Linked DNA regions of Homo sapiens. The protein of the gene in region 1 interacts with the protein of each later gene in a pairwise test. Each region holds a gene or a part of one and is shown in the gene's direction. Other genes may lie near its edges. The genes, in order: SPTSSB, SPTLC3, SPTLC1 and SPTLC2.

Evidence for each region.
Region 2: the proteins of SPTSSB (region 1) and SPTLC3 interact in a protein complementation assay, tested with the Homo sapiens proteins (one study listed by IntAct).
Region 3: the proteins of SPTSSB (region 1) and SPTLC1 interact in a protein complementation assay, tested with the Homo sapiens proteins (one study listed by IntAct).
Region 4: the proteins of SPTSSB (region 1) and SPTLC2 interact in a protein complementation assay, tested with the Homo sapiens proteins (one study listed by IntAct).

The regions. Positions count from the first base shown.
Region 1 is NC_000003.12:161,342,857-161,347,783, reverse strand, and holds the end of SPTSSB (serine palmitoyltransferase small subunit B), read left to right. Parts: intron 1-1,428; 5' UTR 1,429-1,460; coding exon 1,461-1,691; 3' UTR 1,692-2,986; downstream 2,987-4,927.
Region 2 is NC_000020.11:13,010,857-13,019,563, forward strand, and holds part of SPTLC3 (serine palmitoyltransferase 3), read left to right. Parts: intron 1-8,707. UniProt on the Homo sapiens protein: Component of the serine palmitoyltransferase multisubunit enzyme (SPT) that catalyzes the initial and rate-limiting step in sphingolipid biosynthesis by condensing L-serine and activated acyl-CoA (most commonly palmitoyl-CoA) to form long-chain bases.
Region 3 is NC_000009.12:92,112,414-92,121,580, reverse strand, and holds the start of SPTLC1 (serine palmitoyltransferase 1), read left to right. Parts: upstream 1-6,167; 5' UTR 6,168-6,210; coding exon 6,211-6,267; intron 6,268-6,514; exon of another isoform or gene 6,515-6,659; intron 6,660-9,018; coding exon 9,019-9,126; intron 9,127-9,167. UniProt on the Homo sapiens protein: Component of the serine palmitoyltransferase multisubunit enzyme (SPT) that catalyzes the initial and rate-limiting step in sphingolipid biosynthesis by condensing L-serine and activated acyl-CoA (most commonly palmitoyl-CoA) to form long-chain bases.
Region 4 is NC_000014.9:77,514,439-77,523,145, reverse strand, and holds part of SPTLC2 (serine palmitoyltransferase 2), read left to right. Parts: intron 1-1,564; coding exon 1,565-1,700; intron 1,701-4,978; coding exon 4,979-5,108; intron 5,109-8,707. UniProt on the Homo sapiens protein: Component of the serine palmitoyltransferase multisubunit enzyme (SPT) that catalyzes the initial and rate-limiting step in sphingolipid biosynthesis by condensing L-serine and activated acyl-CoA (most commonly palmitoyl-CoA) to form long-chain bases.

The DNA.
Region 1 (4,927 bases):
CTCCTGCCTCAGCCTCCCCAGCGGCTGGGATTACAGGTGCCCACCACCATGCCCAGCTAATTTTTTGTATTTTTAGTACAGACAGGGTTTCACCATGTTGGCCAGGCGGGTCTCAAACTCCAGGCCCCAGATGATCCGCCTGCCTTGGCCTCCCAAAGTTTTGGGATTACAGGCGTGAGCCACCGAGCCCGACAATTAGTGCATTTGTAAAAGCCACAACAAGTTCGGGTACAGTGGCTTATGCCTGTCATCCCAGCACTTTGAGAGGCTGAGGCGGGCAGATCACCTGTGGTCAGGAGTTCAAGACCAGCCTGGCCAACATGGTGAAACCCCATCTCTACTAAAAATGCAAAAAAAAATTAGCCGGGCATGGTGGTGCATGCCTGTAATCCCAACTACTCAGGAGACTGAGGCAGGAGAATCTCTTGAACCTGGGAGGTGGAAGTTGTAGTGAGCGAAGATTGTGCCACTATATTCTAGCCTAAGCAGCAGAGTGAGACTCTCTCAAAAACAAATAAATAAATAAATAGCCACAACATATAGAGAAAAGTTAATAATATTTCTAAATAAGCAATATTATCTCATTTGTAAAAATGAAGAGTATTTAAGAATATTTTAAACAGGTTCTCAGTATACTGTTGATTCTGAAACAGTAATGCCCTAGGGAAGAGTAGAGGTACAGATTTTCTGAAATACTTGGGCTCCAAAGTCATTTCAACTTGACTCCAGAATGCAGCATTACCACATGAACTTAAAGCCTCCTCCTCTCAAACCCACCACAGCATTGCCCTAACTCAGAGGTTGAAGATAAAACAGTTAACTTATCCAACTAGGCCCTACAGCTTCTGGCCTCACTGTGGCCATTCCCACCTCTTCAGTGTCATCACACTCCCTGCTCCCTTCTCCCTCCGTGGCCCCTCAAAAGCAACCTACTTCTTCCCACCTCCAACCTTTGTACATATTGTTCCCTCTGTCTTGGCTGTTCTCCCTACTTCACTGTCTATTCTATCCATTTGACTCATAATGATCCCTTGGACCTTATCTCAAAAGTCTCTTCCTCAGAGCTGTGCTTAGGTTCACTTTTATTTCTCTTTGTATACATGGCTCAGGAAAATGAGGCTAACCTCAATTTTTAGGTACCATTATCACTAAAGTTATTTCTAACAATTGTCATGTTTAGATAGATGTTACTGTTACTAATAGTATTATTGCTGCCAATTTTAGTAGTGATTATTAGTAGTGGTGACAATATTATTAATTTTTATAGTTAATATAGTATGTATTATTTTACAGAATATTCATATATTAATAATATATTCAATGATCTTTAACAAATCTTTGAAAGATTTTAACATGCTGAGATCATGAAATTTTAAAGTGATTCTATGTTTGGTTCCTCATCCTCTAATCTGTTACATTCTTTAACAGGACAAACTTACTGCAGCTTGAAGGAGCCAACCATGGATTTGAGGCGTGTGAAGGAATATTTCTCCTGGCTCTACTATCAATACCAAATCATTAGCTGCTGTGCTGTTTTAGAGCCCTGGGAGCGATCTATGTTTAACACCATCTTACTAACCATTATTGCTATGGTGGTATACACTGCCTATGTCTTTATTCCAATCCACATTCGCCTGGCTTGGGAATTTTTCTCAAAAATATGTGGATATCACAGTACAATTTCTAATTGATCCTGTTCACATTCAGTGAAATGGCATTGCATATTTATATGTTGCTTACAGCTTATTGATTTAGGTAACTATTGTGTCTTCCTTCACTATCTGACCTGAAAAGCACTCTCTTCTCTATGCACTCTTATATTCTGCCTTTCTGCCTGGAGTTTGAAATACATGTCTCTTTAGTTTCTTTTGCACATGCTACATTGTGCTTTAGACCGGAGATAATACAGTGACTTTACCTCACAAATCATATTCTGTCAACACAAATCTATGAATTTAGTTTATTTAAAATCAGAACAATTTCCTACAAAATTTTTCTGGAAAATAGACTCCTAACAGACCTACCAGAATCATGCTTAAAGTGCTCCCTTGACACTTATTCTATACTAAAGGATAAATTTTAAAAAATCTTTATAGGCTACTGTCAGAAGTATCCTATCCTTGTTTACGATGTATAAAAAGATGTGAATAAATTATATGGACCCCCTAAGTCTTATTTTCTAGTAAACTGATGATACTGGAAATTCTTTTACTTCAAATGCAAAAGAATAAGCTGGAGGCAATTATTTCCTTTCATACAGAGTTCATGAATTGTTTTAAATGCTTCTTAAAGTCTGGCTTTATAACCGTTTAAAATCAACAATGTTGATTTTAGATAACCAAGTAAGTATTATAATACAAAATAATTTTAAGTGTAAGAAACTAAAGTATAATCAAAGTAAATTCAGTTATTGTATTTGTGGTGTTGCCTTGCCTTGCATGATGCTGGGGGAAAAAGAGAAAAGAAATGGTTTTCTTTTTGTACTTTCATTCAGTGTAGAGGGAAAAAAGCATGTATTGGGCCACCGGAAGACAAGCTAATAAATAGGCTGGAAGTAATATTCTACCAGCAGGAACTCAACAGCTCCAGTTAAATGCTTTGATATAGTGGCTCCTTTGCAGAGCCAAAACAAGATTTATTAAATTTCCTTCAAACTGTTTATCTTTAAAACAAATATAAGGTTTTAATTATACTGCTGAAGCAAATGTGAATGCCAAAGACTACGTTTTGCAGTTTTGCTTTCCTCCCAATAAATATTAATGTATGTAATTCTAGAGGGTAAAAATGTAAATAGGTTTGGACAATATTTGCACCCTTGTTTGTGTTATGAAAAAAATTTTTCCAAGGTGAGCTAGAGAGAAAGATGTTTGGCATGCCAAATTAACTTGCATGTTTGTTAAAAAAACAAACACATGTTTTGAAGAGAAACCAGATCTGAACATGTATTTGTTGAGTTTTGCAAAATAAAATTAATTTTGTAAGTAAATATCTACTTCCAGATTTACTTTTTATTCATATTGCACTAAATATCTAGATGTTACATTGCATATTTCTCCCCAGCTTATCATTTTTTAGTAATCCAATGTGGTAACTGGTGTTAAAACGGTAACAAAAACCTAACATTTATCAAGGGACTTCTCCATGCTGGACACATTTTCCATGTTGGAGTAGGTATAAAGGTCTCCTACTTACAGGTAAAGAGCCTGGAACTTGAAAAAGTTACATTTCTTGTTCAAGGTCGATTAGCTACTAGTAGCTACTAGTAGCATAGCAAGGATGCAAATCCAGGTCAGGACCACACCGGGCCCTGCAAATATTTTGCACACGAAAGCCCAGGGGAGGACAAAATGAACAGATGAAAGTTGATGGGATGAGTGTCACCAACGTTTGAAAGTAGAACTCCATCAAATAGAAGGAAGAGCGTTAGGAGACAGCCAAGGTTGGAGGAATGATAAGCTGAGGTCCCAGCTGTCACCTTTGCTGCTGTACCTAGGATGCTGTGTTCACCCATTTCTATGCTTCCAAGGCCCACATGACTATTTTGAAAGATTGCTTTCACTTCTAAATATTTAAAGAGAATTCTCAGTTAAGCATGAACTTGGATGCATTCCCAGTTCATAATGATTCAACACCCTTATATACATGGACCCCTGCTAAGTACTCCTGGAATTCAATCACAAAGATACTGCATTGACCTTCTCAAAAAATCCTCCATCTAAAAATAAGAGAGTTAAAATAAACATGAATAGACACAGCAAAGCTTAATAAAAGATTATTGCAAAGCACCACCCCAGGATGTCACTTCGAAGGTGTTTCTTCTGAGCAGTCAAAATAATAAATACAGGGTCCAAAAAACATAATCAAAAATAGTTTGGGAAAAAAAACCTATCAATCAGCATGTAGTGGGAAAGAAGAGTAAGCATTACTTTCCCTGCCTGCTAAGTTTATTTTCTAGACATGGAGAGAGACATTCTTTACCTTGACCCCAGTTTGCCTAGATTAGAAACACTTTTTGTGTGTTTTTCCTTTGCTTCCATTACTTGGATATTTCAATGATGTGTACAGAACTTTAAAAACAAGAAAGGCCAAAGGTTCCATGGCTCCGGTGAGCTTGCATTTGTCACTCACCGAACGAGAAATTGTAAAATGTTCTTTCCCTGGTATTGGCCAAGTCAACAGTTACTTTTATCTGCTTGTGCAACAAAAAACACAAAATGTCAAGATATCAGGCAGTTTAAATATCAAGATAGGACTAACCAATCTTCATTAAGTTGTTTGTGGAAAAAAAACACTCATCCACATTTCCTATTTTTTTCTTCTTCCATCACAAATATATTTAGATCCTCTTACTGGGGTGATTCTAGAAGGCAGATTTGTCCTTATTTCTGAATCTCCTGATACAGGGCTTAGCAAATTCCCACCCACGAGGACATTATATAGCTCCTTCTACCTTGTGACCACACAAAAACAAAGAAGCTCAGTGTCTGTATTAGGCCAACCAAAAGATGGACAGCTCCTGACTATGGACTAAAAGAGTAACACTTATTCATTCATTCAATAAATTTATTAAAAGTCAACCATGTATTGATGGGTAGATACAAGGATGGAAAAATGAAAAAATATGTGATGAGGAAAACATAACAATAGAAACTAGATGCTAGGTATACAGGCATTAATTGTCAAATTCTGTTAACATTATGTTTGAAACTTTTAAAAAAATACATAGGGAATAAAAGCCTACCATGTGCTAGTCTTTGGGCTTGGTACTAGAAAATGAAAATGAATGAGACAGAAGCAGAAACATCTCTGGAGTTATTAATGATAGTATCTGGTAGGCAAGATAACGACAACAACAACAAAAATACAAGCAAGCAAAATATTTATGAATTGTGATAAAGTTTAAAAAGAAAACACTAGTGTGCTAGAG
Region 2 (8,707 bases), on another chromosome or scaffold:
CGAGGTATGAGATTAGAAACTTAGACAGTTATAACCACTCCTAAGTAAGGATAAAACCCAGGATTCTAAAGGTTCATTATGAAGTGCAGCTGCAAGACTGTAAATATCCTTGGACACTGAGGCTTCCCTAAGAACGGTCGAAAACATCAGGGCTGCTGTTGCCTTCCTGAAGGGCCATCCAGAGCCTCTTGTCTCAGACATATTTAGGTGTCACTAAGCTACAATTGGCTTTCATTGAGAGCCTCAATTATGGCTTAAAAAATATTTTTCAGAAAAACAAACGAACAAAAAAAACCCGGCTGAGATCATAGTGTAATAGGGCAAACGAGGGCTTATTGTCCCCTCCATGATGGGAACGAAGTTGTCTTTACTCTCAAGTTCCTTTGCCACCAGTTTTGATCCTTGGGACCCTTTAACAAACTAGGCCTAGACCAAAAGCCTTGCCTGTGGATAGAAGCAGTCTGCAAAGGCTTACAGAATCCTAGGCTGCTGGTCTCCCAAACACGTTCTGCCTGGCCTAACGTCTTCTGCCGCAGCATCTAAGATCCTACCAGCCCCTCCAATGATCCTCCCACCCTTTCTCTTCCCACTTATTTGCAACCACACAGCAACACAGTTATCTCTTTTATACATTAGGGGACCCTACAAGATTCTGTTGACAAAGGGTTCCCTGGCATAACAAACATATGAAAATTACTATTAGGCGGTGCTCATGAGTCCTCCTTCCCCCTGGTCCAGCGTAGGCTGCCATCCCTGCTCCAGCCTGCAGCAGGCTTGCTGCCCCAGTCTCAAGGCTGGCAAGGACCAGAGCCTTTCCATTCTTAGAAACCTTCTAGAGTTCCTTTCTGGAGCTTTTATGGAGCCTGACTATTTTTCCTGTTTTTTTTTTTTCTTTAAACCTCATATGTCCTGAGAATGCACAAAAACTGGTTTTCATCACTGACTAAGTCCATTTATTTGTTTATTCCCAACATGGCCTCCTACCTTTTACTTGTAACAGGACACTATCATACTAGAGGATTTGTTCTCCCTCTTCATGAGCATATCCACACTACAGACAGATGGGTGCTTAAAGTCTTAATCTATAAACTTGATATTTCTTATAATTTTTATTGAATTAAAATTCTTCCTAATGAATAGGAATTTCCTATTCCTTACTTAATTCTATATAATTACTTTGCAACTATTATCCACATAATTGCTTTTTAATTCCCAGCAATTATTTTTGACCTGACCATAAACTTTTATTTGGAAAACCAAAACCTAGGAAGGTAGACCTTGTGTCTCCATTGCATTTTCCCAGAAGTAGTTTCTTAAGAGGATAGAGTCTGCATTTTCTTCTCTTAAACGAAACCTGCAGGATGAAAAAAAAATTGTAAAGTTTTCCTAATCATCCCTTTCCTGGAAAACAAAAATGTTTGGGGATTAGAGTTACTCTAATTCAAGGTTTATTGAGTTCTTGACCTGAATGTTGTAATATTACCAGGTATAGGTTATGAGCCCTAACAGGTGGTTGCTTTTTTTTCACCAATACTTATTAAGCATCTGTTATTCTTAGGACCTATAAAGATAAATAAGAAGTTTACAATTTATCTGTTAGGAGAAAGCTTATATCAACATTAAAATAATCACATCAAAGTTAAATGCTAGTGCAAGGACAAGAGCTGCCATAAAGCAGACATAACTTGAGTACAAATGAGTGGTATAGATACTAGTACTAGAAGTTGGAGAAGAGCAAAAATAATAATAAATATCAATATTCTGCTATGTATCAGGAAGGGCTAAGCACTTCAGGCAGGCATCTCCTGTACCTTCAAAACAGCCCCATGAAGTGGTAGTATACTGTCCATTATACAGATGGGGAAAGATAAATCACTAAGGAACTTCTGAAGAATCACAATCAGCATGGCCAGGATTTGAGCCCAAATCCAAGTTGCTCCAAAGCCAGTTCCTTTTTCAGTATGTTCTAGGAAATCACAAGTTGGGGTGGTCAGTGACAGCTTCTCAGAGCAGAGAAGACTCAAATTGAACCTTGAGACATTATAATTGCAGAAAAAATAGGGAGCTTATTCCTGAGGGGCAAATGAGGAAAAGACAGGAAAGGAACTCCAGAGATGAATGTAGGAGTTGCTAGTAAAGGGCATAAGAAAGGTCATGAAGCATTCCAGGAAGCTGTGAGGCACAATAGGTCATGTGACTTTTGAGAGACTTTTCTCAATTCAGTGAGCCTTCATCGCAGACAGTGAGAAGCAGTGCTGTGGCTGAGGTGGTGCTCAGCAGATGCTGGAAGAAGAGAAAGGATTAAGCCACATTATTATGGAAATCATTTCCAGTTTTAGAACCATTTAAGCTGAACTTCTATTCTCCCCACCTTTCTATATCCTCTTGAAGTCTGCAATATCCTGGTAGAGCTACTCTTCTGCTGTAGTATAAACTTCTTCTAGAGAATAAGAGCAATGACTGATTGATAGTTTAATTGCAAACAGTGGTAGCTGCCTGACAGCCGTGGTAAGTACCTGTGTCTGTGGGGCTCACCTAGGCTACCCCCTGATTGAAATAGAGGTCAATATTCTCTCCAATTACTAGGAGAATTCATAAACTAAAAGTTTTGGAAATCCCTTTCAACTGCTCTGAGTCTTCATCTTAGTCTTGTCTTTGGTGTTCATTTTCTAATGCCTTTGTTTCTTGGCTCCTATTTCCTTAAAACAATCCCCAATGTGGCAAGGCTTCTCCATGAACTCCTTAAGGAATCCGCAGTTTTTCATGAGCTCATCATTTATAAAGCATTCTTGTGTGTCAGGTGCTGCAGTCATTAAGATGAAAATATTCTCCCTCCATTTATAAATAGCTCACAGTATAAATGAGAAAGACAAGCAATTATAGTATTTAATGGTAAGTACTATAGCAAATGTTACAGTTATCTATTCCTATGTAACAGCCAGTCCAAAACCCAATGGCTTGAAACAATAACTATTGGATTGTTCATGATTCAGGCAGGGGCTGCTAGGGATTGCCTTTCTCTGCTCCACGTGGTGTTTGCTGCAGATCAACTTGCCTGAGCATCCAAGATCACCCCATTCACATGTCCCAGACCTTGGTACCAGCTGTTGTCCAAAGCACCTTGTGTCTACTTCACCAGGACACCCTCTGCATGTGGTCTCATTATTCTGCAGAGTAGCCCAGGCTTTTTTACAGGATGACTGGCTTCTAAGAGAGTAAAAATAGAAACTACAAGACCTCTTTTATGTCCTAGGGACATTTCTGCTACATTCTGTAGACAAAGCCAGTCATAGTCCAGCTGAGATGCAAGGCGAGGAGAAACAGATGCTGCTTTTTTCATGACAGAGGCTGCAAAGTCACATTGAAAAAGGTTGTAAGGGATTGGAGAGATTATTGTGACCATCTTTGGAAATAGTCCACCACAATAGAAATATATGGACCTTGCATGGGAACACAGAAGAATGTGTATCTGACCTAGGCTGGGAAGACAACTTGCTTCAGAGAGGCATTTGACCCAAGTCTTGAAAGCAGAGTAGCCAGTTGTACAGGCATAGAAAGGCATTCCAGCAGAGGGAAAGGCTGTTAGAAGGATATAAAATATCAGAGCATTATGCCTTTGGCCAATGAAAGATGAGTTCATGGTAGGAGGTTCAGGATGCTTAATGGAAAGAACCAGGTGGGAAAAGATTGTAAAATGCCTTTGTCTTAGTTTACATTCCCCAAGAAACAGACCCAGAGATAAAGATTTGAGTGCAAGAAATTTATTAGGGAGGTGAACCCAGGAAGCACAGAGGAAAAATAGTGAAGTGAGGCACAGAAGGGAAGGAAGCCGATACGCTCATGAGCAAGTTACCATTGTTGGCAACTGGGACTGAGACTTGTCGGGGACATCTGGGAGATGGCGTACAACACATCTCAAAGCTGTCTAAATTTAAAAAAAAAAAAAAAAGATAAATGTCAACCAATTCCGGTCCATAATCAGTTGAGGGATGCTCAGCACTTGTAGACTTTCCACACATGGGCTGAGCACACTCCTATGGCAGAGAAAGCCCTCAAGCTGAGCTACAGGTGCTTGCAGTAAGAAATCACCAGAATGGAAGAAGGTCTGGATGCGCCAAGAGTGTCTTTTATAACCATTTATATGTGCAAGTGATGGAGGTTTGAGAAGGGAATTAGCATGATCAGATACGGTTTCTCCCAAACTGTGTAAGCTTTATTTATGGTGACTCTTAGAGCATGGTTTATGAATTAGCCCTGATCTAATGGGCTAATCATCATACAAGACAGGATTATGCTGTTAAGCAACATAAACAGAGCTTACCCACTGTGTTTGGCAAAGGAGAAAAGGGATATATCAAGGGTAAATATTATTGCCATAATTTGTTCCCTTTGCACTCAAGCAAGATGAAAAACCAGAAACCATGAACAGCTTAGCAAATTTTAACTATATAAAAAAACTAAAACTTAATATGGCAAGAAGCATCATAAAGGGTAATGCATAAAAAGCAATTGGAAAGCATGACTGAAGTAAAAACTCCTTTACAATAGCACCAGAAACATGAAGGACCTGGAAATAGATTTAAATAAAATGAAAATCAATTGGAAGGGAGTATGAAAATGCTACTGAGGGACATGAAAGGAAACTGAAAATAAGTGGAAAGGCATACAACACATGTAGAGGAAGACTCAGGATGAAAAATGCATTAATTCTGCCTAAGTTAACCTATCAGTTTCTGTGTAAGTCCAGTAAATAAATCAACATATTTTTGAGCCAGACAAATGACATTGAAGTTTATGTGTAAAATTAATAAGGAAGAATAATTGGAAAGACTATGATAAATAATAATAATGAGGGTGACTAGCACTACCAACTAGTAAATCATGTTGCTCACCAAAAGAATTAGAATGGTTTTCTATTAGTACATGAACAGATAGATAAATATTATAGGTAATTGTTAATCTATTAAAGTATAAGAAAATATCAATTTTAAAATAATATTTACATGGGAAAAGTCTTTATAACTATGATATAATACCCAGGAGCCATAAAACAGGAGGTCAACAATCTGACTACATAAAAATCAAATATTTATTTCTGCATGGCAAAAACAAAACAAGAATAACACCGTGAAATAACCAAAAGGCAAATTACAGACCAGGAAAATGTTTAAAATTTATATCATAAAATGCAATTTTCTGATTATATAAATAACTTTTAGAAATGAATACAAAAAGAGGCCAAACACCAGAAAGAAAAGAATGGACAAAAGCTATGATGAGGGAAATACAATTTGAAATACAAAAGGTAAGGAAAGGAAGAGAAAGAAGGGAAGAGAAGTCAGAAAAGGGAAGGAAAGGAATATGCTAGAATCAGTTTCCATGAGAAAAGAAAGAAAAGTCCATTTTCTCAGTTTGTGTGCATTAAGTGCAAAGTCAAGTTGAAACTTAGTTTGAATAATCTAGTTATTTTGATCAGTTTAATAATGATAATAGTAAAGCTAATAAATCAATTGTTGATGGGTGCTACATGCCAGGTCCTACTATGTAATTTGCCTCATTGAATTCTTATAGCAGTAATGCAAAGTGGATATTATTAGCCACATTCATACAGATGAGGAAACTGATGCTCTGAAAACATAAATAACTTACCCCAAGGTCACACAACTAGAACAAAACTGGGACATAAACTCTAGGCTATCTACCTTATCCTAACTTCTTACTTCAACAACTGTCGAAGACCCCATGATATTATCTACTTTCTATGATAATAGGCTTAGAGACCTTTATTTAACAACTGAACATAATACCAGTTGTCTAAGGTATCAATAATATACTTTTAAAAAGAAAGGTGCTTATGCTTTCACTGTGACTAAAGATATTGAAAGACATCAAGCTCCAATAGCTAATGCATGTTGGCCTATAGTTAAATCTTTGGGAGGTAATCAAGAACATAATAATTATAATAATCTTTAACATGTCTTGAGATCTTCAAAGTGCCAGGCATTCCCAGTGCTTTATGTTCATCATCTCACAGCATTCCTATGAGGTATTATTTTTGGACCCATTTTATAGGTGAGGAAACAGAAAGCTTTAGTAACTCAACCAAGGTCACCAACTTATAAGTATCAAAACCAGGTATGGAAACCAAGTTTGTTCAATCCTAGAACCTAAGTTCTTATCCTTTAGTCCACGCTTCCCCTGTAAACACAAGATAATGTTAGGCATGGGATTCATACCCACTTCCAGAGAGAAGGGGCCAGCAGACACAGCCTTAAAGGGCAGAGTCAGTGTGAGTTAAAAGAATGGTGAGTTGTTTTGTTTTCCTGATTTTTCATTCTTAATAAAAATTTTAGCTTATCACAAATGACACCAAACTGTCATATATCTGTGCTTTCAATAGGCAATGTTATTCACTCAGAGACATACCACATTAGTGAACCTGTCACCTCCATGCCTCACTTTGAACAACTCTAAGCTAAAGAAAATTGACCTCATGTGACTCTGAGTCATGTGGACTCACACTTAGCCCCAGTCAGAGCTTGAGAGATAGTCTGGCTTTCAGGAGCTTTTTTCAAGAGTACATGGCCTCCCTGAATAGAAACTTCACTTAGTACAATATTTTCTGGCAATACTGATATCTTAGACATGATGCAATAGATCAAGCTTGTCGACATGTGGCCTGCAGGCTGCATTTGGCCCAGGACATCTTTGGATGCAGACCAACATAGATTCATAAACTTTCTTAAAACATTATGAGATCTTTTTTGTGATTTTTTTTAGCTTATCAGCTATCATTAGTGTTAGTGTATTTTATGTGTGGCTCAAGACAATTCTTCTTCCAATGTGGCCCTGGAAAGCCAAAAGATTGGACACTCCTGCAGCAGATGAAAGATAGTTACAAATTCTTTGGAGTATTTCCCATTGAGAGGTAGAATCTAATTCTAATCCACTTGAACCTGGGCTAGACCTAATGACTTACTTGACCAAAAACGTGATGGAAGGGACAATCTGGGACTCCTGAGAGTCAGTTACAAGAAGACTCGCAGCTTGAACCCAGTCCTTGTAGAGTGCCCATTCTTGGAATCCAGCCACCATGCTTTAAGGAAGCCCAAGCAGCCCAAGAAGTTCAAGGAGAGAAACCAAGTATCCTTGCTCTGTTTCTAGCTGAGATGCAGTACCAACTTCTAAACTGTGTGAGTGATGTATCTTGGAAGTGAATCCTCCAGCCCCAGGGTGTGTTTGCTCCAATTGATACTTCATGGATCATAGACCAGCTGTCCCTGTTGGGCTCTGCCCATATTAAAAATTCTTGAGCAAATAAATAATTGCTGTTTTAAGTTTGCTGGTGGCTTATTAAGCAGCAATAAAAACTGAATACATGGATATTATATTTCCTTAAAATGACTAGAAAAGTCATTGTGCAATCTCAGTACCATTTTCAATGCTTTCATTTATATTTACATTTACAGAGTTTGCTTTGACCATGAATTTGCTATTAATCATTGGCAAAGACACATTTTCATAAGTTATAAATTTCTGTTTTGTTTGGCATAAGGACTGTATGCTTAAGCCCTTAACCAGAGATGAGTGTCCGGCTGTAAAAGCCAAACACAATGAACCTAAACCAATGCAAAAGCACACCCATTTGAAAATTGCCAAATCTGAAGTGTAATTATTAACCCTTAGGAGGTCTGTAATTTATTACATTGTCTATGAAGAAATAGTTGACTCAATAAAGTGTGTGTGCTCAGGTGTTTCATTGGCTTAATTAACATATTTTAAGTATTTTTAATATCTGCCAATTACAAATTAATTTTATCTATTGGTTAAAGCTTCCTGGAAAAATTTTCTCTCACTGTTGAGGTAAATTGATATTAACCTAATTAATTGCAAGAAGTCAACTATGCTGATTTTGAAATATATTTAATGTTTTTAGTAAATATGGCTACCTTTGTCTCAGTTGGCCTGTACTAATGTAGTTTTACTGGAATTCTAAGGTATTACAATCTATAAATTTACGACAGAAAGATCTATTGCCACCATATTAGAAATATTTTCCGGTGATTTGGAGTTCAAATTAACTATTTTGGGGGAAAAACACTACAAGCATAGCTCAGAGAAATACTCAAAATTATCCTCCACAATCTACTTCATCTATCTATCACAGTGCCATCTGAATCCTGCTCTCCTGAAGAGTTTTGACATATTGAAGATCATCTGAGCCCAGCGGAGTTTCAGATTGCAAATGCCTAGAGGAGCTAGCAGGGCCTTGTGTAGGACAGTAGGAGATGGTAAGAATGGGTTTAAATGAACAAGGCCTGGTGTTTCCAAGAGACAGAACAGGCTCCATCTTGATAGTTTTTCCAACTTTTAAAAGAAGCTGGAAATCCAAATTGAGGAAAGGAGGTCTCATGATTTCTAAATGTTGGCATCTAATTTTTAAAAATTCAAATCCTGTGGATTTAAAGAAAACATTGCTAACAAACACCAATTTGTAACCTCTAAACTATAGGCAAACAGAGTGTAGGAAATAGGCTAAAAAGTCCTAAGTACAGTGCTATTTTCTCATTTGTTTAGGAAAAATGGCTCAGAGAATTTGGCTCGCCTCGATTTAATTTACTTTATATTTCAAAAAGTGATAGATGAGTCTTCCACCTTCACTTTCCTGAGTTGATATATTAACAATTACCCTAGACTCTGCAGGTTT
Region 3 (9,167 bases), on another chromosome or scaffold:
GGTGGATCTCAAAAAGGCATGCCTATGTCCTAATCTCCATGTGATGGTTAGTTTTAGGTGTCAACTTGACTGGGCTAAGGGATTCTCACATAGCTGGTAATATTTATTTCTGGGTGCGTCTGTAAGGGTGTTTCCAGAAGAGATTAGCATTTGCATTCATAGACTAAATAAAGCAGATTGCCTTCACTAATGTGGGTGGGCATGATACAATCCATGGAAAGTTTGAGTAGAACAAAAAAGCAGAGGAAGGGTACATTTCATTCTGTGTAAGCTGGGACATCCATGTTCTCCTGCCCCTGGACTTTGGTCCTCCTGGTTCTTAAACCTTTGGGCGAGGACTGAATTACACCACTGATGTTCCTGGTTCTTCAATTTGCAGATGGCAGATTGTGTGACTTCTCAACTTCCATAATCATGTGAGCCTTTTTTTTTTTTTTTTGAGACAAAGTCTCGCTCTTGTCCCCCAGTCTGGGGTGCAGTGGCATAATCTCGGTGCACTGCAACTTCCGCCTCCCGGGTTCAAGCGATTCTGCTGCCTTAGCCTCCCAAGTAGCTGGGATTACAGGTGCGTACCACCATGCCCAGCTAATTTTTTGTATTTTAAGTAGAGACGGGGTTTCACTATGTTGGCTAGGCTGGTCTCGAACTCCTGACCTCAGGTGATACACCCGCCTCAGCCTCCCAAAGTGCTGGGATTACAGGCATGAGCCACTGCGCCTGGCCAAGCCAATCATTATAATAAATCTCCTCTTATGTAGAGATCTATATATGTTTTATTTATCCTGTTTCCCTGGAGAGCCCTATTATACCCCAGAGCATGTCAATGTGACCTTATTTGGTGGAAGGGTCCTAACAGATGTAATGAAGGATCTCAAGATGAGATCATCCTGAATTATCCAGGTGGGCCCTAAATCTAATGAGAAGTGACTTTATAAGAGACACAGAGGAGAGACACATACAGGAAGAGATGGCCATGAAAAGATTAAGGTAGAAATTACAGTGATGCTGCCACAAGCCAAGAATTCCTGGAGCCACCAGGACCTGGAAGGGGAAAGAATGATTCTCTCCTAGAGCCTTCAGAAAGAGAGTGGCTCTGTCAATACCATGATGTTGGACTTCTGATCTCCAGACTTTGGAGAAAAAAATTTTGTCTGTTTTAAGCCACATAGTTTGTGGCAATTTGTTATGGGAGCCCTAGAAAACTAATACAGATTTTGGTACCAGGAAGTGGGTGCTACTTTAATAAATACCTCAAATTGTGGAAGTGACTTTGGAACTGAGTAATAAATAGAGGTTGGATGGTTTTTGAGGTACTTGAGAGAAAAGTCATAGAATTTCTTGAAGAGACTGTTAGTGGAGTTATGGATTTTAAAGGCAATTCTGGTGAGGGAACAGAAGGAAGTGAAGAGCATGGTAGAGAATTCTTCCATCATCTTAGAAATGTATATCTCATCATGAGCAGAGTGTTAGTAGAAATACAGATGTTAAAAGTGGTTTATGTTGAAGGCTAAGAAGGAAATGAGGAACATGTTACTGGAAACTGAAGGCAAAGTGATCCTTGTGACACAGTGGCAAATAACTTGGATGAATTGTGTCCTTAGGTGGACAGCAGAATTTGTAGGCAATGAACTTGGATATTTAGCTGAGGAGATTTCTAAGCAAAGTGTTGAAGATGCAGCCTGGTTTCTTCATGCTGTTTGTAATGAAACAGAAAAGGAAATAAGCAAATTGAGGAAGGAGCTGTTAAGCAAAAAGAAACAACACTTGATGATTGGGAGCTTCTCGGCCTATTCAGATTGCAAAAGATGCTAAAATTGGGAAACTCACTGTTGGGAAAGTGTACTCTGGATACAGGGCCGAGGGTGTGCCTAGACAATATTGTGCTGAAGAGATCTGCTATACAACTGATGGATCCCTCAATTATCTCACGGATCCAAGGATAGATCCAGCGTTATCCAGGAAAGATCTGTGGGGGTTCTTTTATCTAATGGCATGGATCCCTGTGACATACATGGGAGCCTCAAAAGTTCTTGAGAAGGTTGTACCAGAAGAAACACTGTCAGCTTGGCCTGAAGGGGCTGAGACAGGACAAAGTGAAAGAGAGGCTGTCAGATATGCACAATTCTTCAGGCAAGAAGAGGACTGATAGAACTACTCAGGTATCAGCATGTGCTGCCCTTCAAGAAAAAGGAAGAATCACTATGAGGACAGGGTCATGGGCACAGGGGTAGAGGCTGAATGTTCAAGAGCAGAGACCTACCAAGTTGCCATGAGCAAAGAGGCCTATGAAGCCATGAGCCCAAAAGACACAGCTTCAAGCCACAGAGGATTATTCCCAGACCTTGAAACCAAATGACTTTGCCTTGTTGGATTTCTAACTTGCTTGGGATTGATGACCCTTTTATTCCTTCTAATTTCTCTGCTTTGCAGTGAGATTGTCTATCATATACGTGGCCCACCTTTGTGTTTTCGAAGCAGGTAACTTCTTTTCTAGTCTCACTAGTCAATAGATGCAGAGGAATTTTGCCCTTGCATAGCTCATACCCATAGACTCACCTACACCTGATTATTTATATGTGAATATTTGAGACTCTTTGAATTAATTTTTATGATATTTAGGTGAGAGTTAAGACTTTTGGAGATGTTGAGACGGAATGAATGTATTTTGCACATGAGGCAGATGTGAATTTGGAAGGCCAGAGGTTGGACTATAGTAGGTTAAATGGTAGAGCCCAAAAAGACATGTTAACATTCGAATCAGGGAATAGAACCTGGGAACATGGCCTATTTGGAAAAAGGTTCTTTACAGATGTAACTAAGTTAAGGCTCTCGCTGGAAGAGGCAAAAAAAGTCTTCTCCCCCCAGAGCCTTTGGAGGGAGTATAGCCCTGTCAACACCTTAATTTTGTACATCTGGCCTCCAGAAATGTGACAGAATAAATTTCTGCTGTTTCAAGGCACCCAGTTTGTGATCGTGTGTTACAGCAGCCCTAGGAAACTGATACAGAGGCCAAGCAAAAGTTCCAAATCAAGCAAAGTCCCACGGTGTATTCCTTCCAGTTATCCCAAAATATAACAATCCCAAAACAGTGGCTTAGAACAATAACAATCGTTTATTTTTGCCCACACATTTGGGTGTCATCTGGGCTTAGCTAGGCATACCTCACTCAGGGTCTCTCAGTGGTGGTAACCAGATGGTGGCTGGAACTGGAGCCACCTCGAAGGTGTCGTCCCTCACACGTCTGGTACCTGGACTAGTAAGACTCAAACAGCCAGGGACTGGGGCAGCTGGGGCCCCTTAGTCATCTCTTTCCCCTTCTATGTGGTTCTCACATGATCTTTCTACATGGCAGCTGTATTCTCTTATAGAAGCTGCCACAAAGATATGCCTTTTGATGAGTGTGTAAAAGAATTTGCAGATAGTACCATTGACTCAGAATTGCAGAGAGTATGGTGAAGTTCACCCCTCAGAGTTGTCTTGCTAAGTAGGGCAAGGAAGCTGCAATATTTATATCCCAGCTACCATCAGTAATCCACACTGGTAAGTACTGCCCAGGAGAAGATACATTCTCAGATACTTCCAACTCTCCAGGAGAGCAGGAAACGTGGGAATGGCAGCCTTCAAGGGGGTCCTCTGAGAAATGCAGGCGTGGCTGCTGGAAGGAAAGCACCCGGGGGAGGAAATGCACGCAAGCACAGGACTGTGAGCAGAGCACTGACACGGACTCCATATCGCCAGCTTATGTGGAAATGTAGCACATAGTGTAGCGGCATCATTATCTGGGGTAATACCTGAGGTTCATTGTCCCACAGCCATGGAAAACTAGGACGCGACACACCACAGTGAGGTTAAGAGCAGAAGTTTAATAGGCAAACGAAAGAGAAGAGCTATCTGTGCAGAGAAAGGGGTCCCAGAGAAAATGGGTTGCCAGTTCTGCGGTGAAACGCACAGGGTTTTATAGATGAGCTTGAGGAAGTGGCGTTTGATTTACGTAGGGAATGAAAGACTGGTTGGACCAGGTGTGCCATTTGCATAGTGCATGAAGAAGCTGGCCTTCCCACCCTAATATTTTATTCTGCAGATGGCTTCTCTACCTGACTGATGCCATGTTGCCTGTTCCTTCACTGTACACGTGGTGACAAAGAAAATGGAAGATGGAGTCTCCATATTGAACATACCTGGCTTCCAGGTAGTCTTTTTCTATCGGCACAACTGCCAGCATTCTCCCGTGCACTGCCAGCTTGCTTATCTATGTTTGTAGCTCAATTTTTCAGGCTGCTCTTTGCAAAAAAGAAATAATTTTGGGGTTGCTTTTTGTTCAGAAAGAAGCTCTGCTGAGGACTCTCTTACCTTCACTATCTGCCTAAATAATTTCTTTTTGGCTCCTGTATCAATAGCACTGGTACCATTTCAGAATTCTGGGGAAAGTCAGGGTTACTCAAATAAATGGCACTCAAAAAATTGTTATTCCTTTAGAAAAAAACATAATTAAGTCCCTTAACTCTCATTATCCAAAAATATAGTTTCCAGAGTAAAGAGCTAATTGCAAATAACAACAAACTGCTGCAAGAATGGTTGGAAACCATAGATGTGGTGAAGAAGGCCTTTCTAAGCAATATGCAGATCCAGAGGCAAAAAACAGACTGAAGCACTACATAAAATTTAAAATTAAAGTATGATGAAAGAGCAGAAACAACTAGGCGGCAACTGAGCAAAAATATTTTTCACATATGAAACAGAAAAATATAAGATATTCAGAATGTATAGAGTTCCTACAAATCCATAAGAAGGCAAAAATAACCAATAGAAAAATGGATTAAGAATATGAATTGGCGATTCATACAGTCTATAAATGCCAATAAACATATAAGAAGCTGCACAACCTCATGAGTAACCAGAAGCATCAATAATAAAGGATAGTGAGGTATCATTTTATCTCCATTAAACTGGCAAATTTTTTTAAAAGATTGATAATATCCATCATGGACTAGAGCATAGAAAAACTTCCAAATTATTTTAATTGGTTGAGCCATTTTGGCAGTACTTATCAAAATTAATAACGTGCATAGTCTTCAGATATATCCCATGTTGAAAAAACTGGTCAGAAAAACTCCAACATGCACAGAAAGATATACACACAAGGAACATCGACAGTTATGGCAGCATTATTTGTAATAGGGGAAAGGTGGGAACAACATAAGTATTCACCAATAGGGAAACGTTTACATAAAATGGAACGATGAATATACATAAATTATTCCATGGAAGTCTTCAGCCATTAAATATGAGATATATTAGGAAAAAAATGCTAGAAAAAAAATTTAAAAAAAGTTGTAGAAAAGTCTTGTCCCTATGATCTCAATTATATTTAAGAAATCCAATCCAATTAAGTATGTGCGCGTGCATACTGTTTGCATATGCATTGGAAGGCTCTAAAAGGTTCTTTACCAAACTGCTATATGATTTAATACCTGCAAAGCCTTGGCCTATGTCTGACAAAACAGGAAGTGCTATATGGGTTGGCTATTTTTGTGTATAATTATGCATTTCTTAATGATAATGCATTGCTGGATTACTTATGCTACTAAACGTAAACGTATTGGCCAGGCGCGGTGGCTCACGCCTCTAATCCCAGCACTTTGGGAGGCCGAGGCAGGCGGATCACCTGAGGTCAGGAGTTTGAGACCAGCCTGACCAACATGGAGAAACCCCGTCTCTACTAAAAATACAAAATTAGCCAGGCGTGGTAGCCCACGCCTGTAATCCCGGCTACTCGGGAGGCTGGGGCAGGAGAATCGCTTGAACCCGGGAGGCGGAGGTTGCGGTGAACCGAGATCACGCCATTGCACTACAGCCTGGGCAACAAAAGCGAAACTCCGTCTCAAAAAAAAAAAAATAAAGTAAACGTATTGCAATCATTTTAACTCTCTGCGCCCAGCTGATGACCAAGTGTAAGGCCCGTTCATTACTACTTTCTCCATCCTGAATCCAGCAGGGAGGGTAATAGGACACAAGGTAAACAATTCTTGGAAAAACTGCGGCATCCCACCTGACCCCGTCCAGCCTCCTGTCAACCAGTGCGCAAGTGCGAGTAGGCGGTGCCCAGCGCTCCGCCGCCCCGCCCTCTGCGGAGGTGATAACGACACTGAGCAGCGACGCGCACTTTTGGGACGCGCTTGTGACCCGCCTTCCGGAAGGAAGCGGCTAACTATGGCGACCGCCACGGAGCAGTGGGTTCTGGTGGAGATGGTACAGGCGCTTTACGAGGTGGGCTCCGCGCCATTAGCGGTCCGCGACCACACCCGGGCCCGGGGAGGGTGGGAGGACGCGTGTGGATTTGTGGCCTGAGACCTCGGCGGGACTGGCTCGGTCACGCCCAGACTCGGTGCCTCTTGCTGGAAGGACTGCCGGGAGCTTCTAGTCCCAGCGGTTGAGTGTAGGGAGGAACGGGCGGGGGCGGGGGCTGGGACTGAGGGTCTCGGTTTGAATTCTTATGCTCCGGGTCCCCTGGAAGCTCCGGAAAGGAACACGTGTAAGGGGACGCAGGAGACAGGTCTGCAAAAACCAGAGTTTAGACGGACGATAAAACGGAGTGGTGAAAATGAGTGGAACACCTTCGTCTGGGAAGGTCCTAAGGAAGTCAGCTCTTTGGAACTACGGTACAGTTCGTTGGGGAATAAAATTGTAATAAATTGGAGTTTGTTTTTGTCGAAAAGAAATCAAGTGACTTAGGATTTGTGAATAAAAAATAGTTTGTCATTCTTCTGCGTACATCAGTTTTCTGTCTTATAAAGATACAACTAGTTTAGTCGATTTTTATTTATTTATTTTTGTTTTTTTTTTTTGAGACGGTGTTTCGCACTTGTTGCTCAAGCTGGAGTGCAAGGGCGTGATCTCGGCTCACTACAACCTCCGCCTCCCGGGTTTAAGCGATTCTCCTGCCTCAGCTTCCCAGGTAGCTGAGATTACAGGCATGTGCCACCATGCCCGGCCAATTTTGTATTTTTATTAGAGACGGGGTTTCTGCATGTTGGTCAGGCTGGTCTCGAACTCCCGACCTCAGGTGATCCGCCCGCCTTGGCCTCCCAAAGTGCTGGGATTATAGGCTTGAGCCACTGCACCTGGCCGTAGACTTTTAAAGGAAGAATAGTTAAGAGTTTTTTGAAGCCTAGTTATTTCAGATACATAAGATAATAAGAAACCAGAATGTCAATCTTAGTGTTCATTCATTTAATAACTGAGAGTCCCCGTGCTGTCTTGCAGAGCTATTCATTGGGCACTGAAGAACTTATTTTATTTTATTTTATTTTTTAAAGACAGGGTTTCACTCTGTCGCCCAGGCTAGAGTGCAGTGGTGCGATCAGCTCACTGCTGCGTTGACCTCCCAGACTCAAGCGATCCTCCCACCTCAGACTCCCGAGTAGCTGGGACCACATACCACCATGCCCAACTAATCTTTTTTTTTTTTTAATAGAGACGGGGGCTTGCTGTGTTGCCCAGCCTGGCCTCGAACTCCTGGCCTCAAGTAATCCTCCTGCTTTGGCCTCCCAAAGTGCTGGGATTACAGGCATGAGCTACCACACCCAGCTGCAACTGAATTTTTAATTTAACTTAAATAGCCACGTGTAACTTAGTGACTGTCCACATTGGACCACACAGATCTAGATGCTAGGGATAGTGCGGTGAACAAATAGGCAGAAGTCCCTGTGCTTAAAGAGCTTACATTCATTTCAAGTGAATTTCACTTTACTTTTGATGATTTAATATCACCAAACTTAATATCACCGTCTACTGGTAGGGGTAATGACAGTGTCTTCCATTGCAGGACATACTGGGAATTTTATCTTGAAACAGCAGAGACAGCAGATGTGGCTCTGTCTTATGCTCATGTATTAAGTGATGCCCAGTATTAGGTTAACTGTAGTGACCTAAAATGAGCCACTAAAATTGAATGATCTTTTTTATAAATGATTTTTTAAAGAAATGGATTATTTTCTGTTAAATGTTGTTTGCTCCCTTTTTGAAGACTGACAGTAGTGTAACTTCTCATTCCCCGAAACTGTCCAACAGTGAGACTTGGGAGAACTCCTGTATGTAACATTTCCTGGGAAGGAAAAGAAGTGGTGTTTGTGATTTTTATTAATTCACTAGAGAGAGAGTTTCTCAGCTTTTCTTAGGGTGATTTCTTTTTGGAGTGGGCTCTTAACTAGTGGCTGGGGCAGATGTTTGCTTGCTAGAATCCAACTATTGAGAAAACTAAAAGGGTATTTAGACTTATTCATAAATGAATTGTATTTAGGGGGATGAGCAAATTTTAAAATTCATCATAAACTTCTTACTCCCAAATCCTATGCGTGTTGAATGTAGAATTTGAGTAGTCTTGTATAGTGTACCCAAAAAAGAACCACTGAAATTAAATAATCCGATGGTTAATATTGGGATTCTGTGTTAGATTTTATTTATTTATTTATTTGAGACGGAGTTTTGCTCCTGTTGCCCAGGCTGGAGTGCAGTGGTGTGATCTCGGCTCACCACAACCTCCACCTCCTGGGTTCAAGCGATTCTCCTGCCTCAGCCTCCCAAGTAGCTGGGATTACAGGTATGCGCCACCAGACCCAGCTAATTTTGTATTTTTAATAGAGACAGGGTTTCTCCATGTTGGTCAGGCTGGTCTCAAACTCCCGCCCTCAGGTGATCTGCCCACCTTGGCCTCCCAAAGTGCTGGGATTACAAGTATGAGCCACCACGCCTGGCCTAGATTTTATTTTTTTAATTTTAATTTTTATTCCCAAAGAAGTTTTAAAAGCTAAAAATATTAGGGGTTTTTCATGTGAGGGAGAAATTGCCTGCTATTAGAAATGGGGAAAGGAATGAATAGAAATTAAGGGAGCTTCGAAAGTAAATTGTTAAGAATAGGCTAAAAGTCACAGGAGGCAGTATATGCAGGTGTAGTAAATTTTATGTGCAGGTGTTAGAAGTGTATGTTTCATATCTTACTTGTTTTTGACTCACTCTTAGGCTCCTGCTTACCATCTTATTTTGGAAGGGATTCTGATCCTCTGGATAATCAGACTTCTTTTCTCTAAGACTTACAAATTACAAGAACGATCTGATCTTACAGTCAAGGTACGAAATTAAATCTCTGTTTTAATTATTGGGTATGTGAT
Region 4 (8,707 bases), on another chromosome or scaffold:
GGGGACTTGGCTCATCAGTTCCCAACATACTTAAATATAACACACTTTAATGTCTGCTTTCTTCTTTGTAACTTAAGCGATGACATAAATGATGCTCTTCAGTGCTCACACTAGGCTAATCTAAGCTTGAGTGTTTTTCTGTGATCAACTTGAAATTATCTACATAAAGAGTATTAATTTTGACTTATTTGTGGCCAACTTATATAGAGTAGCTTCCCATGAATGATGGATATGTTAGTATTCTGATTCTAAGGACATTGTTAGCTATCTGTATGTCTGGTTAATTTGTCATAAGAACTTATGTCATGTATCATGCTTGGACTTTTAAAAATATGAACTTGCTGATTTTATAATCTATATATGAAAATTACTGCAGCCTTTTCTATTCATGAGTATTCATGGTTGAGAAGATTCTAAAACAGTTCTTAGCCCTTTCCAAGCAGATCTTTTAAATTTATTGCTTTGCTCTGTATAACAGAACAGTTGTTTGGATATCTTTTCAAAGATTGACTTACCATAATGTCAAAACCTGCCCAAATATTTAGTCAGTTGGCAATTGCAGACAGAAACGTGTGTTTTAATCTATTTGTGTTTTAGGGAAGATGAGCAAAATAGGATTAAAGATACGATTTTATACTATTACAGATATGTTACTGTTGTCTGGTAAGAATTTTAAGGAAACAGGCTAGGCGCGGTGGCTCATGTCTGTAATCCCAGCACTTTGGGAGGCCAAGGTGGGTAGATCACTTGAGGTTAGGTGTTCGAGACCAGCCTGGCCAACATGGCGAAACCCTGTCTCTACTAAAAATACAAAAGTTAGCTGGGCGTGGTGATGTGCACCCGTAACCCCAGCTATCAGGAAGCTGAGACAGGAGAATCGCTTGAACCCGGGAAGCAGAGATTGCAGTGAGCCAAGATCGTGCCGTTGCACTCCAGCCTGGGCGACAGAGTGAGACACCGTCTCAAAAAAAAAAGAAAGAAAAAGAAAAAAAGAATTGTAAGGAAACAACAAAATGAAACTCAGAAGATGAAAATTTGGGGGTCTAAAGGCTTCATCTCTGGTCTTATGTGTAAAATTTATTTGCAGCACAGTTAATTAGAATGAATCTTAAAGTTAGAAGATGTAAATTCTAGTTGCAGCTATGCCACTTGCTACTTGTAATGTGCCACACACTATTGTGCAACTGTAGGCATGTCACTACCTTGGTGAGAGTCTCCCCACCTATAATATGAAGATAATCATAAATATCCTGCCTACTGTCAAGGGATTTGTGGAGTGCTCAGTGAGGGGGTATGGCTGAAATTCTTTGAGGATGCTAACGCTCCATTAAACGTTTTTTACATTATTATAACTTCTGCTGTTAACAGGTAGAATGACAGAATACAAAATGAGACATTTTACATTTATATTCCATATGGTTTACTCTGTAAAATATTTTATGGTGAAATGGAAAAAAACGAAACAGAACTGATTAGATAGAATGGAGATAGAGGAGATTTACTGTCTTTTTTCCATTCCTTTTTACTTAGGATTATTTTGTTTTCTCTCACCGTGACTTTCCAGGTAAAGAGTGTGTACAACAGTTAGCTGAAAACACCAGGTATTTCAGGAGACGCCTGAAAGAGATGGGCTTCATCATCTATGGAAATGAAGACTCTCCAGTAGTGCCTTTGATGCTCTACATGCCTGCCAAAATTGGGTACGTTTTGTTGCAGATCACAGACCAGTCTGTCCTTATCCTTATCTGTGATGTGAGACCAGGGCTTATGTATTTTGTTAGGGAAAATGGTCTTGTCCTTACTGTGTTAACCTTCATTTGGTACATATGCCATAGATCAAATAGTGGATTCCAAATTGTAAAGTATGTTAATTTGTTCTTCTTTCATTAAACATTTGAGTTTCATGTACTCTCTAGGGGCCTGGGATAGATCAGTGAATAAAATACAAACATCTCTGTCCTTGTGGAGCTTACAGTCTAGTAGGGGGCAACAGTCAGACAGACATAATAAACAAATGAACTGTGTACGATGTTAGAAGGTGTCAAGTGCTATGGAAAAAAATAGAGCAGGACCTATATGGGGAGTTGAGAGTGCCCTGTGGGCGGGCCGATAACACTATTAAATAGGGTGGTCAGGGTAAGGAAGCCTCCTTGGGAAGGAAAATGACATCTGAGCAAAGATTTGAAGGAGCTGACAGCCACTGGAGAAAGAAGCATCTGTGCAAAGGCCACAGTACAGAAGCGAGCTTGCTTAGCTGACGGAAGAGTAGCAAAGAGGTCCCTGGAATTGGAGCACCGTGCCCCAGGGCGAGCAGTGGGCCATGAGGTCAGAGAGGTTTTATCAGAGTGTGTTATTGGATACTTACCAGGTGTGCAGATTACACCAGCTTCTTTGGTTTGTATGAGGCATACATAATGGAAAGCCCTGCCCTAGGATAGCTTTCAATGTATTTGAGAAGTCCAGATGTATAATGAAACCAGAAGACATTTGAAAAGCAAATGAACAGTAATTATACTGAACAAATTTTATTATATGCAAAGTGGCCCTGAAGATGTAGAATAAAGGAGTGACCTGCTTAGTATAGGCTCAGTAAGAAAGGCACATCTTGTTGGATGGGTGAGTTTTGAGCTGGATCTTAAAGCATTTCTCCAGTTTGATTGAACTCATTGAAGGAGCAATTTTTGTAAATTTTTGAATCCCCAGTGTCCACCACAGTCTCCGACACTCAGTAAATGTTTACTGAAATGAATATGGGAGAGGAAATTAAATCAGGGAACCTGGAAGTAATGTGATTCAAAGAGAATGAAAGGGAAGTAAGGAAAAGGTGCTCCCTGAGAGAAAAAGAAGAATTTGGGTTTCAACATGAAGTCATATGGGCAGTTGGTATTATGGCTTCAGAGGGGATGGGGAAGGATTTTCTTCATTCTTCTTTAAGTGGAATTCTCATAAACAAACATGAAGAGTTATCAGATCCAAAGGACTCAGTCTAGAGCTCTCTTTAAAGAAGGCTGTGTCTCCTTTATTCTACATAGGTGCAACTGACTGTGTACACTTTAATTAGGAAAGATTTAGAGAAGGTACAGGACCCAAAAGGGCACAAAAAAGCAATAACTACTAAATATAAGGAAAACAACTCTGTATACAGCATGTATAAAGAAAAGCAAGGTATATTTGGGGAGATAAAAGTTGTAAAGGCATTAAGATGTGTGTTTGTTGAGAAAAAATAAATTTGTGCATTTAAGAAGTTAAAAAAAAAAGATTTAGAGAAGGTAAAGAATTAGAATAAGGCACTAGACAGTTTGGGAGCATGTGCTGAAGATACAGGGCACCCAGGTTCATGCTGACACAAAGGAGGTATGTTGAGGAAGATGTACTGGTACTACAGAGAGTGGGAAAAGGCTGTGAAAAGACTGGCATTAATGTAATGCCAAATGTGCAGGATCTGTATAGCCCAGGCTGGAGTGCAATGGCGTGATCTCGGCTTACTGCAACCTCCACCTCCCAGGTTCAAGCAAATCTTGTGCTTCCGCCTCCCCAGTAGCTGGGATTACAGATGTGTGCCACCACACCTGGCTAATTTTTGTATTTTTTAGTGGAGATGGGGTCTAACCATGTTGGCCAGGCTGGTCTCCAACTCCTGACCTCAGGTGATCTGCCCGCCTCGGCCTCCCAAAGTGCTGGGATTACAGGCACGAGCCACTGGCCCGGCCACATTTTTTTATTCTCAAACAAATGCTGTAAACAGCTTAAAGGAAAAGTTGAAACATAAGGGAGGTCAATAAGAGGAAAAGACAAAAAGCAACATAATTTGGGCCAGGCACAGTGGCTCACACCTGTAATCCCACTTTGGGAGGCCGAGGTGGGTGGATCACAAGGTCAGGAGATCGAGACCATCCTGGCCAACATGGTGAAACCCCGTCTCTACTAAAAATACGAAAATCATCTGGGTGTGGTGGTGCACACCTGTAATCCCAGCTGCTCGGGAGGCTGAGGCAGGAGAATTGCTAGAATCTGGGAGGTGGAGGTTATGGTGAGCCAAGATCGTGCCACTGCACTGCAGCCTGGCGACAAAGCGAGAGACTCAAAAAAAAACCCACATAATTTAGTAGACAAAATTAACTAAAAGTTAGAATGTGTTATTTAGACAAGATACAGATGTGGAGTAAGGCCACAGGGCCTCCAATTTGGCTTACGATAGGGGTGGGGGATTGTTAAATACGAATTGTGTGGTCTGAGTAATCAGCTGAAGCCAGCGGGTGAACTGGCCTGACAGACACCAAAGGAAGCCCTGAATTCTGAAGCAGTGTTGTTCCCAAGACAATTAAAGAAACGTGTGATCTGGAGAGCTCATGCCAGTCAGCCATTCTGCTAGCAGAAAAGATGTGCCGTGTTACAGCAGATCCCCCACAGCTGCAGAATCCTCAGAATTTGCGGATTAATGTTAAACTGCCAAGCTTAACATTTCAAGGACCAGATTTTAATTAAATACAGGTTCATTTTGAAGCCTCTGAACCACTATTACATATCAGGGACACTTTTTTTTTTTTTTGAGACAGAGCCTTGCTCTGTTGCTCAGGCTGGAGTACAGTCGTGTGATCTTGCCTTACTACAGCTTCTGCCTCCAAGCTTCGAGAGATTCTCATGCCTCAGCCTCCTGAGTAGCTGGGACTACAGGTGCATGCCACCACACATAGCTAATTTTTTGTATTTTTGGTAGAGACGGGATTTCACCATGTTGCCCAGGCTGGTTATTTCAGTTTTGTGAAGGACACCATATAGGAGAAGACTGCTTTAGGATTGACTTTAAAAGTATTTGTGAGCTGTCAATTTTAACTTTAAAAGGAGTTAAAGGAAACTCCTATTAGAAGTCTCCAATGCCTGCATCACCAAAGAGTTGAAATCTTTGAGGACAGCAGGTCCTCTGTAATGAGTGCTTTTTCACTCCTCCTGGTTTCTGTTCTTGTTTTCCCCTTTGCAGCGCCTTTGGACGGGAGATGCTGAAGCGGAACATCGGTGTCGTTGTGGTTGGATTTCCTGCCACCCCAATTATTGAGTCCAGAGCCAGGTTTTGCCTGTCAGCAGCTCATACCAAAGAAATACTTGATACTGTAAGTAGGCACTTTCACCTTGATATAAATATGCCTTTTATTAAAAGGGCCTGTATATTAGATGAAATTCATAATATATTGATCTTGATGTTCTTGTGAGCACCTAAGACAGAGGGGGTGACAGTGCTACCAAAAACATTGGCATTTACAAAAAAACTGTCACCCACCACACCTGCATCATGAGAGCTCTGGAGAATTTTCCGGCTTTGTCTTGCTCTACTGTCTCCCTCACTATGGACTCTACAATTCTCTTTCCACTCTAGCTATTTCTACATTAAGCTTTCTCATATGTTGTTCTGTCTAAAATTTTCTCTCTTGAGCTTTCTCTCCCCTCTGCCTGGCTGACTGCCACTCATTCTTCACATCTCCATTTAAAGGAAAATTGCTCAGGGGCGCCCCACACCTTCTTGCTCTGTGTTCCCTTGGAATCCTGAGATTCTCCCTTACTAAATTCTTCACACCTATAATTATTTAATAGCAGTCTTCTCCATTAGATAAATATTGAGGATAGGAATAAGTCTGTTTTACTGATTCTATATCCCAGCACCCACCACACTGCCAGGCATCTAGTTGGGGATCATTATTACTAAGCTTAATTATTTATTATCTCAAGATATTCTCATCTCTATATATTCTCTTAATATGTTATTGTTGCAAGTCTAAGATTTCAGAGTTTAAATCATTATTGCCATCTGGGAGTTTATAAAGCTTTAGAACATGACATTTGCATAAAATTAGTTGCTAGAAATATCCATTAATGAGTTAGAGAGCTACTAATTTTTTTTTTCTTTTTTGAGAGAGAGTTTTGCCCTTGTTGCCCAGGCTGGAGTGCAATGGCGTGATCTCAGCTCACCACATCCTCTGCCTCCTGGGTTCAAGCAATTCTGCCTCAGCCCCCTGAGTAGCTGGGATTACAGGCATGCGCCACCATGCCCAGCTAGTTTTGTATTTTTAGTAGAGTCAGGGTTTCTCCATGTTGGTCAGGCTGGTCTCGAACTCCCGACCTCAGGTGATCCGCCTGCCTCAGCCTCCCAAAGTGCTGGGATTGCAGGCGTGAGCCACTGCCTGGCAAGAGCTACTAATCCTAAAGAACATTATGAATGCTTCTTTATAAAAGTTAATTATAACAATTTGATGGACATTTTGTATTCCTGAATAGCCGAAGACTTGACTTTTCTTCTCTGTTTCTACACAGCAAAATTTCTATGAGTATAAGTGTATTCCCTTTTAAAAAACAAAATTGTAGTAAGAACACTTAACATGAGATCTGTCCTCTTAACAAATTTTTCCATGTCGAATACAGTATTGTTAACTATAGGCACAGTGTTGTGAGCATATTCTTAATTACATTCTGACAATATCCAATTAGATTCAACTTTTTGATATTGTATCTTTTTTTTCTTTATTTTGATTATGCCTGTCAGATTTTTCCAATGGATTTTTCTCATTTCTCAGAAATTTTACTGGTGAATTTCTGTGATGATTTTTTTTAACCTAGAGATTTCAGCTTTTCTTTCCTTCCTACTCTATTGATGTTTTAAGAATTTTCTTTTTTCTTTCTCATGTTCACCTGTTAACTCAGAATTTCAATGTGCCTTTAAAAAAAAGTCTGTGTAACTATAACCAGTGTCTATGGCAGTAATCCATGCCTTCTGACCACAACTTTGACTTCTGAGAACTGTACACATTCATGAAAGAATTTAGATGTAACCAGGATATCTCCTTAGGATATCTAAGGAGATTTCTGTTGCCAACAAGTATGTTTGCCAACTGAGAGTTCTAATCCTTTTCATAAGATTCTCTTGAGGGATTGTTGGGCTTTGCCTCCCATTTAGTTTTTTAAAGCATAAAGTGCATTTTTTGAAACCATGGATTTGTTAAAGTCATTTTGTCTTATGATGTTTTATGGAACTAAACGTGTACTAGACCATTATGAGATACAAATTAATTTTCATTTAATAATGGGCCTCATGACATGATTCTGTATATAGAAAGTGCTGTAAAATACACACACACACATGCGCGCGCGCGCACACACACACACACACAGCTAGAGCTCATAAATGAATTCATCAAAGTTGCAGGGTAAAAGATCAGCACACAAAAAATTAGTGCTTTTATACACCAGCAATGAACAAATGAAAAGAAAATTTCTTTTACAATTTTCAAAAGAAGAAAATACCTAGTAATAAACTTAAGAAAGCCTTTCCTGGCTGGGTGCGGTGGCTCACACCTGTAATCCCAGCACTTTGGGAGGTCAGGCGTTTGAGATCAGCCTTGCCAACACAGTGAAACCTCATCTCTACTGAAAATACAAAAAATTAGCCAGGCATGGTGGGGGGCACCTGTAATCCCAGCTACTCGGGAGACTGAGGCGGAAGAACCACTTGAATCTGGGAGGCGGAGGTTGCAGTGAGCTGAGATCGCACCACTGCACTCCAGCCCGGGCGACAGTGCGAGACTCTGTCTCAAAAAAAAAAAAAAAAAAAAAAAAAGCCTTTCCCTTGTACACTGGCTAATTTACACTTGTACACTGTATTTTTAGATGTGTATATTGAAAACTATAAAACTTTGCTGAAAGAAATTACAGAAGACTTAAAGAAATGGAATGACATCCTGTGTTCATGGATTGGAAGATTTAATATTGTTAAGATGGCAGTATAGCAACCTACAGATCCTGTGTTCAGCATTTCTCAGAAAAAAATGGACTGGGAGACCCTAAGCCACTGGCCCTTTTTTGCAGAAATTAAAAGGCTGATCCTCAAATGTATATGGAACTGGCAGGGAATAGCTAAAATAGTACTGAAAAGGAAAAGCAAAGTGGGAGGACTCACACTTCTTAATTTTAAAACAAAGCTAATTACTACAAAGCTACAGTAATTACAACAGTCGAGTACTAGCATAAGGATAGACGTATAGACCAGTGAAGTAGAATTCAGAGTTCAGAAATAAAGCACAAGCATCTATGGCCAATTTGTTTTCAACAAGGGAGCCAAGACCAGTCAATGAGAAAAGAATAGTCTCTTCAACAAACAGTACTAGGTCAGCTGGATGCAGAAGAGTGAAGTTTTAACCCTACAGCATGGATAAACCTTGAAAACATTAGGCTAAATGAAAGAAGCCAAAACAAAGACTACATAACTTACAATTCCATTTATAAGAGATGTCCAGAACAGGCAAATCATAGGGTCAGAAAATAGATTGGTGGCAGCCAGCCTGAGAGGAGGGGGAGTGAGGATTGAGACAACGAGTATTGGGTTGCTTTTTAGGGTGATAAAAATACTCTAAAACTAGATAGTGACAAAAGTTGCACAACTCTGTGAATATACTTAGAAGCAATGAATTGTATACTTTAAAAGTGAATTTTGCTGAATGTGAATTGTATCTCAAAGCTATAATTTTGTTATTTTTTAAAATGGGAAGCGCAAGGATATTGGCTCAGGGGAGCGGCAGGATGGCTGTCCTAGAGGATTCGGTTACTCAGCTCTATAATGAATACATGTTTTTCTCCTAGAAACCCACCTTACCTGTGATCTAGAGGTTCTGTGTAGACTGTTAATGAATGGCGATGCATGTAATGGCTGCCTGTCCCTAACATA